Regions from separate parts of the Homo sapiens genome. Here region 2 is linked to region 1. Evidence: fine-mapped expression QTL. Tissue or cell type: skeletal muscle. Region 1 holds a variant in brackets; the other region holds the start of a gene. All regions are shown on one strand. Distances are between the middles of the regions.

Region 1 (5,969 bases):
AAAATACCTGCCAATTGCCTTTATTCATAAGGTGGCTCAATTCACCCTAATATTTTAGCTAATACAAATATTGCTAACCAAAGCAACCAAATAGGTAGTTTTGAGTGGTTGGGAGAGAATGACTTTCTGTTTACAATTCTTAAGAGTAAGGAAGTAATTTTCTAGATAGCAACTTCTTGCACAGGTGAACAAGAAATAAGCCACCTTCAATGAAGCCTACCAACAAAAATCTTTCAGTAATCATATTCTCATAAAGTCTTATCCTCTTGACTGATGATGAAATGTCCAGGAATTGTCAGAGGGATTATAGTTTCAAGAAGCAGAATATCCTTAGGGGCTAATGAGTATCAGGGATTAAATATATACATATCCTCCCTCACCACAAAGAGGTTTTATTTCATGTCTGTTACCATCTTTTAATTCATTGTTTGTAAGCCCCATTTTAGAGGCAGATGTCTCTAATAGGCAAATGATATACCCTAGTTTATTTTATGTGCCAGGCCATAAATGAGCCAATTGACTAGGCTTTCGTTAAACATTAAATAGAATTGAGGTAAGATATTACAAGATACTCCTGGAACATCCTGTCATACCAGAAATTAAGTACCAAAGACCACTGAATCATGTCAAAAAGGACTCAAGGGCCAACTTGAAGATTCAAAGAGAGGACAACTTGAATATTAATTAGTACAATAACTATAATGAATTAGAACATATCAAATCTATTTCAATGCATTTGTTCAGATTGATATTCTAAAACAATGCTAGGGAATCAGCTTATTATTTTGAAGACTACAAAATAAAAGAGAATGAAACAAGTAATTATTCCACCTTTCATATGCATGATGTACCTCAGATTAATCATAGTTACTAAAAGGACATTTCTCTTCACAGAAGTATTCCAAATAATACGTGAAGAAGAAACGATAGAAATTATTATCCCCAATGAAACAGTGTGGATGGAAAGAATCTGCAATGGTGGTTAACTTCACAACAACAGACAAGCAGGTATTATTGCCCTGATGGCACATATACAACACCACATATGAAGTATTCTTGCAAAAATTCAAACTAAACTCTGATCAAGCCTTTAAATGTACATAATAATTTACAGAAAATACAGAGGATAAATAACACATTAAATGATAATTTTTTTAAACCTAGACTATGGAAAATTCTATAGGACAGACATTCTAGTATTGCCTCAACACATAAATTGAAAGAGAAGGAGGGAGGCATTCTAGATTCAAAGATGCTTAACACATATTAAACAAACATAGTGTGTGGTACTTATTTGGATCTCAATTTGAACACATCAACTGTAACAAAATTATTCATGATACAGCTGGGGGAAATCTGAACACTGACTGTTGATGTTATTAAAAATTATAAAAATTATAGGTATATTAATGGTATTATTGTTATTTTTTAGAGGTGTCCTTATCTTTTAGATATGTATGTGAAATATTTATGGATAAAATTGTTACCAGATCTTTAGGGTATTAATTTTCTTCCCAGAAACCTCTGTGACTGGTGGCACCTTTGCCCGAATTCTTGACCTGTGTCCAGGAAGAATGAGGTATGCAGACAAGTGAAGGGTGAATAAGATGAAGAGGAGCTTTATTTAGTGTTAGAACAACTCAGAGGAGACCCGCAGTGGGCAGATCCTCTCTAGGCAGGTCATCCTGTGGAGTGTTCAGCTCTCAACAGAGAAGAGGCCCTGGAGAAGCTGGCTCCTCTCTGCTGGCAGGTCATTCAGAGGTCTCTGCGGGTCTCTGAAGCTCTCAGCAGAGAGGGTAGCTCCTCTCTGCCACTGGTCATTCCATCATCTCTCTGTCCTCTGCCCTGCTCTGGCTGAGCCTGGGCTTTTATGGAACTCAGAGGGGAGGAAGTTCATACCGATTGGTCCATGGGCGGCCATGGGCAGCCTGGAAGAGGCACCACAAGACCCCACTCTGGTCAGCAGGTCTGGCAGGCTGGCCTCCAGCCTTCAGGTTCTCCCTGGCCTGAAGTTGGGGCCTTACCCGGGACCCATCCCTTCCTGCCCAGGAGCCTGTCTGCTTCCTGCTGCTGCCTATGGCGCCCAGACCGCTAGAGCCAAGGGGCACCTGCAGGCCAGTGCTGAGCTGCCCCCAGCCCCATCTTGGCCTCCCTCTTGTGCTCATTGGTGCCTAAAGTTTGGAGGGTCCCAGACAGCAGGGGGCCTGCGTGTCAACACTGCACCGAGCCTGTGCACACCAGTCCAGGGCGGGACAGAGCAGGAGCTCAGCCCCAACCCGGCTCCAAGATTAGAGGGAGTACTGGGAGCAGAGAGAAGCCAGGCAGCAGCAGAAAACACGCACGAGCCTGCGGGGACACAGGGGGCTAGGGCCTTCCAGACCCTCGAGGGTGCAGGTTGCAGAGCCGCCAGGGTTCTGCACCTAGGAGCATGGCTGCAGCTGCATCCAGGGAGCTCCAGTCCAGCCA[A/C]TTCAGAAGGGGCGGGACTTCCGCTTGTCCCCAACTACTGTCTGTGGAGTGGAGAGAGACGCCCGCGTTTACAACCACAGGTCAGGCAGCTGCAGCTGTATTTGAGAGGGCAGAGATCCTGCCTGCTCCTGGCACCCACCAAGAGCACAGGGAGGTTCAGATATACAGCTACAGTTTGGGCAGCTGCAGCCCTACCCAGGAGGGTGGGGCTCCTGCCTGCTCCATGGAGTGGGCAGCCCCAGCCACGCCTCCCTGCTGCAGCCGATACCATCAATATGAATTGATATCTGGGATTTGCTTCAAATTAATCAAGAAGTAAGGAGAAGGCAAAATTGGCTGTGAGTTGAATATTTGTTGATCTAAATGGTAGGTACACAGAGGTTAATTATACTGCTGTATCCACATGATAAGGGTATAAATTTTTTCATATAATTAGGTTATAAACTCGTACTTAAAATAAGATCTCATTTTCAGTTTTGAAATATATGCTATATGTGTACACACACACACACACACACACACACATTAGAAAGAAAAGAAAATATACCAAAAGTCCTTACTGGCTGTTTGGTGGGATTAGAAGTAAAACATAAGTTTTTATTGGTTTCTATATTTCTCATTATGGAAAACATTTTTAATTGAGACATAAAATTCACACACCATAAGAGTAATCATTTTAAAGTATACAGTTCAGTCGTTTTTAGTATATTCAAAATATTGTGCAACTGTCATCAATCTAATGCCGGAACATTTTAACCACCCTGAAGAGGAAACTTATACCCATTAAGTAGTAGATTACTAACCTCCTTTTCTTCCCCAGCTATAAGCAACCTCCATTCTTGATATTTCTATAGATTTGCCTATTCTGTACATTTTATATAAATGGAGTGGTACAATATGTAGTTTCTTGTCATTGGCTTATTTTACACACCATCATATTTTCAAGGTTTTCTGCAAAAAAGGGGGGGGCATTGGCATTTTGATAAATCTTGTGAGTATTGCCATCTTAACAATATTAAATCTTCTAATTCATGGAACCAGATATCTTTGTACTTAAATCTTCTTTAATTCTTCTCTGTAATATTTTGTAGTTTTCAGTGTATTAATCTTGTACTTCCTTGGTTATATTTATTCCTAAGTACCTTATCCTTTATGAGACAAGTTTCAGTGCAATTGTTTCCTTAACTTTGGTTTTGGGTTATTCAATGACAATATATAAAAGAGCAACCATTTTTAGATATGTATGCATTTTATTAAGATATAATTCATGTACCATAGAATTTACCCACACAAAGTCTATAATTCTATGTTTTTTATATAGTCACAGATACGTGCAAACATCACCACAGCCAATTATAGCACATTTTCATCACCTCAAATAGAAGCTGTGCACTTTATGTGTGATTCAGTGTCTCTCCATTATCCCAAAATGTGATCTACCACTAATCAACTTGCTGTCTCCCTAGATTTGCTTATTCTGTACATTTCATATAAGTGGAATTAAAGAATATGCAAGTTTCGTGTCTGGCTTTTTTCACTAAGCATAATGTTTTCAAGGTTTTTTTTTTTTTCATGTGGTAGCATGTAGCTATACTTCACTACTTTTTATGGCTGTATAATATTCCATTTTATGGCTATATCTGATTTTGTTCATCCATTTATCAGATGATCATTTAGGTTGTTTTTACTTTTTGTCTATTAAGAATAATACTGCTTAGCAAAGACATGGAACCAACTCAAATATCTGCCAATGATAAACTGGATTAAAAAAATGTGATACATATTCACCATGGAATACTATGCAGCCATAAAAAAGAATGAGATCATGTCCTTTGCAGGGACATGAATAGAGCTGGAGGCTATTATCCTTAGCAAGTTAATGCAGGAACAGAAAACCAAATACCACATGTTCTCACTGATAAGTGGGAGCTAAATGATGAGAACACATGGACACATAGAGGGGAACAACACAAACCAGGGCCTTTTGGAGGATGGAAGGTGGGAGGAGGGAGAGGATGACTAAAAATAATTAATGGATATTAGGCTTAATATCTGGGTGATGAAATAATCTGTACAGCAAACTCGCATGACACATGTTTACCTATGCAACAAACCTGCACATCCTGCACATATACCCATGAACTTAAAATAAAAACTACAAAAAGAATAATGCTGTTATGAACATTTGTGGATGCATTATTGTTTGAAAATTTTTTTTAATTCTCTTGGGTGTATACCTAGGAAGTGAACTGATGAGTCACATAGTAACTCTATGCTAAACTTTGCAAAAAACTGTAAAAAATTGTTTTCCACATCAGCTGTACTACAGAATGTTCTCACCACCCTCGTATTAGGGCTCCAATACTCCACATCCTTGCAAATACTAGTGTTGTTAAAAAATTTTAATAATAACTACCATAGTGGATGTGAAGTGGTATCTCATTATGGTTTTGATGTGTATATCCCTAATGACTAATGATGTTGAGCACCCCTTCATGTGCTTATTGGCCATTGGTTTATCTTTTTTGAACAATGAGAACACATGGACACAGGGAGGGGAACATCACACACCGGGGCCTGTTGGGGGGTGGGGGTCAAGGAGAGGGAGAGCATTAGGACAGATACCTAACGCATGTGGGGCTTAAAACCTAGATAACGGGTTGATAGGTGCAGCAAACCACCATGGCACATATACACCTATGTAACAAACCTGCACGTTCTGCACATGTATCCCAGAACTTAAAGTAAAATAAAAAATAAATAATAAATAAATAAATAAATAAATAAAGGAATCTGAACTTGAAAAAAAGAAAAAATGTCTATTCAAGTCCTTTGCCCATTTTTTTCTGAAGTTGCCCATTTTTTTATTAAGTTACAAGTGTTTTTATGTATTCTGGATACTACAACTTTATGAAATATGTGTCTTGCATATATTTTCTCCATCCACTAAGTTGTCTTGTTACCTTCTTGATAGTTTCCTAGAGGCACAGAACTTTTACAATTTGATGAAATCCAATTTATCTATTTTTTCTTTTGTTGTTTGTGATTTCAATGTTATATTAAAGAAATCATTGCCTAATACAAGTTCATGGGGATTCACACCTGTGTTACTTTCTAAGAATTTTAGAGTGTTTAGGTCTTACATTTGAGATCTTTGATCCATTTTGAGTTAATTTTTGAACACAGTATGAGGTAGAGGCCAAATACATTCTTTTGCACATGGATATCCAGTTTTCCCAGAATCATTTTTTGAAAAGATTATATTTTCTCTATTGAATTGTCATGGTAACAAAATTTAAAATCAATGTACCATAAATGCATGGGCTTTTTCCTGGACTCTCACTATATGTCACTGCTTTGTTTTTCTTTTTAATCCCATGGCATGACCACAGTGTTTCGATTACTGCAGGTTGATAATATTTTGGAATTGAGAATAATAAGTTCTACTTTGTTATTCTTTCTCAAGATTGTTTTTATTCTTCAGGATGCTTTTCAATTACATA
Region 2 (5,969 bases), 130 kb before region 1:
TGGAAAAAACCATTTGAGTCTGTATTTTTCAGTAGTTCTAACAACACCAACCACTTTCCAATGTCTAATAAATCAACTTAACTTTGCAAATGCATATTTAATTGATGAGAACTTTTGGTCAGACTTTAGAATGCTGGTAAAAGTTGTGAGACTTAAGCAAAACAACTACTCAAAGTTTGAAAGGCCAGTGTGGATGAAAAAATTCAGGTTATCGCCGGGCGCGGTGGCTCACGCCTGTAATCCCAGCGCTTTGGGAGGCCGAGGTGGGCGGATCACGAGGTCAGGAGATCGAGACCATCCTGGTTAACATGGTGAAACCTTGTCTCTACTAAAAATACAAAAAAAAAAAAAAAAAAATTAGCCGGGCGTGGTGGCGGGTGCCTGTAGTCCCAGCTACTCTGGAGGCTGAGGCAGAAGAATGGCGTGAATCCGGGAGGCGGAGATTGCAGTGAGCCGAGATCGCGCCACTGCACTCCAGCCTGGGCGACAAAGCGAGACTCCGTCTCAAAAAAAAAAAAAAAAAAAATTCAGGTTATCTCAATTTCTGTGCAACAAGCACAGAGCACCATCATTTCAATACACAAAACCCTCAAAGATGACATCCATTGATAAGGCATTAGTTTAAAAGCTAAGCAGAGGTTTTAAGTTCCAAGAGCAGTATGTCCCAGGACATAACTCAAATACACCTATCAGGAAACATTTTCATTGTGCATAGCAACTGGAAAAACTGTTCAAATGCACATTTGCAAAGACCCTAACAACCCAAGGAAAATATTTTCCACTTTTTATTTTTAAAGCACCCAGGTGTTTCTGTATTGTAAAAGCCTCAAGGATAACTTCTGACATTGCAAATGCCCTAGGGGTGGACATTGAAGGATTACTGATTTTTTTTTCAAAGCAACTCCTACAGGTGGATCATTCATTGCCCCCATGAAGTAACGCAGTACGAAAAGAAGCAGGCTCAAGCCATGCTCAGATAAATTCACGGATATCTGATGTACAATGGGCTAATTACTGGGAAGAGACCCGAATTCATTCTTAACTTTTTGAGGTCAACTTTAGGAAGCAGTATGGAGTTGCAGCGAAGGGATTAAGGACCTGGAGGCTAGCAAACTATCCTTAGCTCTACCTATTAATTAACTATGTGACCTTTGGCAAGTAATTTCACCTCTCTGTGCCTCAGTTTATTATCTATAAAATGAGTGGGTTGACCTTTACCACAAAATCCCTTCCAGCTCTAAAATTTGATGAAACAACTTAATGGAGAACAAAATACAATGCGTTCTGCAAACTGTTTCTTTGAAGCCTTAAAGACCACCAAGAAGTACACGGCTCAGGCATCTCCAATTAAGTCTGGGCCAATTCTCTGGGTGTCTGGTACACAACCAACCGACTCCTTACTTGCCCTGCACCGTTTCTGTTTCACTGGGCATTCAAATCCATGGATCTCATCTGTGGTTTGGAAGGCTGAGCAGATAACACCCTCATTTACACAAGAAACTTAGGCGTAGGGCTTAAACGTCCTGTTTAAAGTCTCAATCGGTAAATGACAAAGTCTACTTGACCTCATTGCTCTAAAAAGGGGGGTGGGGGGTGGGGATGCCGGGGAGGCGCCGACAGCCAGTTGTTCTGGGATCCCTGAACAGCAAACGCTCCCGGGAAAAGGCCTCAAGCCGACTACTGGGTTCAAATCTCTTGAAGGTCAGGTCGGCATGGCTGAGCCAATTCCTCCGCTTGCAAGACTCAGGGTTCGGAGTCTGCCAATTTGGAATTCACGTGACTATGTGTTAAGTTTCTCGCGGGGACGCGGGGGTAGAGGGCTGCAAGGCACAGGGAGCCTAAGGCGCCAGGCCCTCGGACTTGGAGGTTGCCTGGAATGGGTCAGTCACCTGGGAGCCGGTTCCTCTGCCTCGGGCTTCGGACGCACACGGTCCGCACCAAGGGCACCAGCTTCTGCTTCAAAGCACCCGCCGCCAGGCCTCCACACCGGAACATTTCGGCGACCGCTATTCGGGACCTCCTCCTTCCCTTTCCTCTCACGCACGACCGACGGGTCAAACACCGTGAGCCCCGGCCAGCTCCCCCAGTCTCTTCACACGCACATTACGCAGACTCCTCCTCCCAGCTCCGGGTGGGCATTGGACAGAGAAGCCGGCCTGCTAGAGCCGGGGAAGGGGAACGGCGACCGGAGGCCTACTGCGCAGGCGTAGCACTCGCTGCCGCATTGCGATTGGTCCGCACGGCGAGAGGATTTGCGCATGCACTAGCTGGCCGCAAGCTCGCAAAGACGCTGGCTCTAGGTAGCCGGTTTTCGCGAGTTTGTGGCACAGTGTTGGACTGAACGAGTTAAGGAACCTGTTCAAGGAGGGACTCGTGGGGCCGCTTTGATTGGCGGTTGTGCCTGGTGCTGCCGCTGTGTTGGTGACGAGAACTGATAACAGCATCTCACAACAGCGTAGCCCCGGCATCGCACTTTGTTTTTTGGTTTTAGGACACCAGTTACTTGATACCGAAGCCTTCCTGATTCTTTTGCAGTGATCCAGATCCAGTTTTTCCATGAGTCCGAGGCGCGGAACCTGGCTTCCCAGATCCGGCGTGTACTTCCATCTTTTACCAGTTGCCGGCTCTTTCCCACCCAACCCGTTTCCTGGACAAGTAATTCTGCGCTCTTCTTCCCGCCTGTCACCTTTATTTATTAGTTCAGTTGTGTGTCCTAGATGCTGTATACCAGGTGCTACAGATACACACAGTCTCCTGCTGTGGTTTCTGTGCTTGGGAGCAGGATGTTAGCAAAAAGCGTTCGTGCTTCTCGGACTTTCTGGGAAGAGAAGTCTGCTAAGCAGAACTTTCAGTTATGGGAGTAGGGTGAGGGGCTGAGTGTAAATAAGTGTTTTGACTCTGCCAGATATAAGCTAAATTGGAAATAATGTTTTGGCTGCATGCAGAACATACAATGTGCCTGTTTCAAAGATTCAGCTTACATATTCATTTAACAAGTATTTATTGAGCACTTACCTCTTGGATTGTACTATAAAAGGGGCTCTGTTGGGTATGAAAAGTACGGATGGTCCCCGACTTACCCCTCACAATGGTTCGACTTACAATTTTTCGACTTTATGATGGGTTTAATGAGACCTAACCCCATGTCAGTCGAGGAGCATCTGGACTTAAGCATGGTTCAACTTACGGTTTTTTGACTTTATGATGGGTTTATCAGGGTATTAAATGCAGTTTCGACTTAACGATATTTTCAGTTTACAATGGGTTTATTTGGACATAGCATCTATATAGGAAGTGGCCACTGTCTAGTTGGGGAGATGACATATACCGGTCATTGAAATAATATCTGGTGTAGTGCCGGACAGAGCAAGAGAGAAGACTATGGGATGGAATCACTATGGTAGAACTTCGTGTAAGAAGTTATTTGAGTTGTGTCTTGAAGGATGAGTAGTAAAATTCAAACAGTAGAGGAAAAGGATTGATATTTCAGATGGTGAATACTTTCGGACCAAAGATAACATTTTTCATTGTTAAACATGTTGACCTTGGATCCAGACCAACCCACATTGAATCCTGGCTCTGCCACCTGGGCAAGTCACTTAATTGTGCCTCATTTTCCTCATCTACAAATCTCAGGAGGGTGTTCGGAAGACTAAATGAGCTAATATTTGTAAAGTGTCTTAGAGGAAGCACCATGCTGTTTGTTAAATGAAAAGGCTTGGAACTGTTTTAAAAAACCAAAACCCAGCACATTTTCGGGGGACAATGATAGAGAGTACATACTAAGAAGTATTGATGTGGTCAGGCTCCGTGGCTCATGCCTGTAATCCCAGCACTTTGGGAGGCCTAGGCGGGTGAATCACTTTAGGTCAGGAGTTTAAGACCAGTCTGGCCAACATGGTGAAACCCCGTCTCTACAAAAAATCCAAAAATTAGCCGGGCGCCATGGCATGCGCCTGTAATCCCAGCTACTAGGGAGACTGAGGCAGGAGACTCGCTTGAACCTGCCAGGTGGAGGCTGCAGTGAGCCAAGATTGTGCCACTGCACTCCAGCCTGGATGATGGAGCAAGACTCTGTCTCCAAAAAGAAAAAAATAAAGAAGTAGTGATAAAGACAGGCAAGTATGGTGGGGGGCCAGATTTGAACTGGCAAGAGTTGGGCCCTAACTTTGGAGGTAATGAAGTTACTTTTTTTTTTTTTTTGGTGGAATGGGGATAGAGAATGAAATTACAGGGCCGGGTGCAGTGGCTCATGCCTGTAATGCCAGTACTTTGGGAGGACGAGTGGGAAGATTGCTTGAGGCCAGGAGTTCCAGACCAGCCTGAGCACATAATGAGACATCATCTCTACCATTTTTTTTTTAAATTAGCCAGGCGTGGTGGTATGTGCCTGTGGTTCCAGCTACTCAGGAGGCTGAGATGGGAGGATCACTTGAGCCTAGGAGATCGAGACTGCAGTGAGCAGTGATTGCTCCCGTGCACTCCAGCCTGGATGACAGAGCGAGACCCTATTTCAAAAAAGAAAAAGAAAGAAATTACAAAGATACTCTTTTTTTTTTTTTTTTTTTCTTGAGACGGAGTCTCCCTTTGTCACCCAGGCTGGAGTGCAGTGGCAGTATCTCGGCTCACTGCAACTTCTGCCTCCCAGGTTCAAGCAATTCTCCTGCCTCAGCCTCCCGAGTAGCTGGGATTACAGGCAGATGCCACCGCGCCCTGCTAATTTTTCTATTTTTAGTAGAGACGGGGTTCCACAATGTTGTCCAGGCTGGTCTTGAACTCCTGATCTCAGGTGATCGCCCGCCTCGGCCTCCCAAAGTGCTTGGATTACAGGCATGAGCCACCTCGCCCGGCCTACAAAGACACCCTTCTGTGAAGTTTAACCCAGGAAGTAGTTTTGTTTTTTGGTTTTCTTTAAGAGACAGTCTCATTACGTTGCCCAGGCTGGTCTTGAACTCCTGGGCTCAAGCAATCCTGCTGCCTCAGCCTCTCAAAGTGTTGGGATTACACGTGTGAGCCACTGTGCCAGGCCTAGGAAGTAGTCATTATGTGGTGAAGATGATCCAGGGCTCCCTTACCCATTAAGCAGAGTAGATCAGTGTTCAGAAGTGCAGGCAATGGGTGACATTTTATCTAGAGCTCCTTTGGATAAATATTGAAAATATGGTCAGGCTCTGTGGCTCATGCCTGTAATCCCAGCACTTTGGGAGGCCGAGGAGGGTGGATCACTTTAGGCCAGGGGATAAATATTGAAAGTATCAATTCCAGGCCGGGCACGGTGGCTCATGCCTGTAATCTCAGCACTTTGGGAGGCCAAGGCGGGCGGATCACGAGGTCCGGAGATCGAGACCAGCCTGGCTAACACAGTGAAACCCCGTCTCTACTAAAAATACAAAAAAATTAGCCAGGCGTGGTGGCGGGCGCCTGTAGTCCCAGCTACTTGGGAGGCTGAGGCAGGAGAATGGCGTGAACCTGGGAGGCGGAGCTTGCAGTGAGCCGAGATTGTGTCACTGCACTCCAGCCCGGGTGACAGAGCGAGACTCCATCTCAAAAAAAAAAAAAAAAAGTATCAATTCCAAAGTAAGGTAAAAATTATTTATATTTACTTAACATTTTAACAGCCTTGCATTGATTTTTATTGATATTTGTAAAAACCAATAATCATGGATTGATTAAATACAAAGTTAATTATATCTGATGGCAAAAGAGACTGGAAAACACTGTCAAAATCATGATAATCAGGTACCTATGAAAACAACTGCATGTATTTGAAAGTAATTTAATAATGCACAATTAACACAAAGGGCATTGTACAGTACATTTAATTTTTTTACAATAGGTACAATAAGGTAGTTTTCCTGTCCTTTTAATTAAAAATTATATTTTTATCTTTTTTCAAAAGCAATATATACTCATTGAATTAATTCCAAAAAATATAAGTGGAAATCCCCCAAAGTCTCACCCCACAGAAG

Alleles and levels. Positions count from the first base shown, and alleles are read on the strand shown. Sizes are in standard deviations (SD) of each study's normalised expression.
With allele A in place of C in region 1, the expression in skeletal muscle of the gene that starts at base 2,180 in region 2 is higher (small effect, 0.29 SD a copy in GTEx).

The links. PIP is the estimated chance that this variant, and not a neighbour inherited with it, causes the effect.
Region 2: it holds the start of AIFM1, and the variant in region 1 is fine-mapped to the expression of AIFM1 in skeletal muscle (GTEx, PIP 0.98).

Annotation. Positions count from the first base shown.
Region 1 is chrX:130,297,426-130,303,394 of GRCh38, forward strand. No RefSeq gene overlaps it. Among named protein-coding and RNA genes, the nearest start is that of ZNF280C, 32 kb to the left of the region's middle. The variant A/C (reference allele first, on the strand shown) is at 2,467.
Region 2 is chrX:130,163,662-130,169,630 of GRCh38, forward strand. It overlaps AIFM1 (apoptosis inducing factor mitochondria associated 1), which reads right to left and starts at 2,180. Exons shown (of 16, transcript NM_004208.4): 1 at 1,890-2,180. The coding sequence starts at 1,995. It also overlaps a transcript of RAB33A not described here. RefSeq lists an enhancer at 1,829-2,168.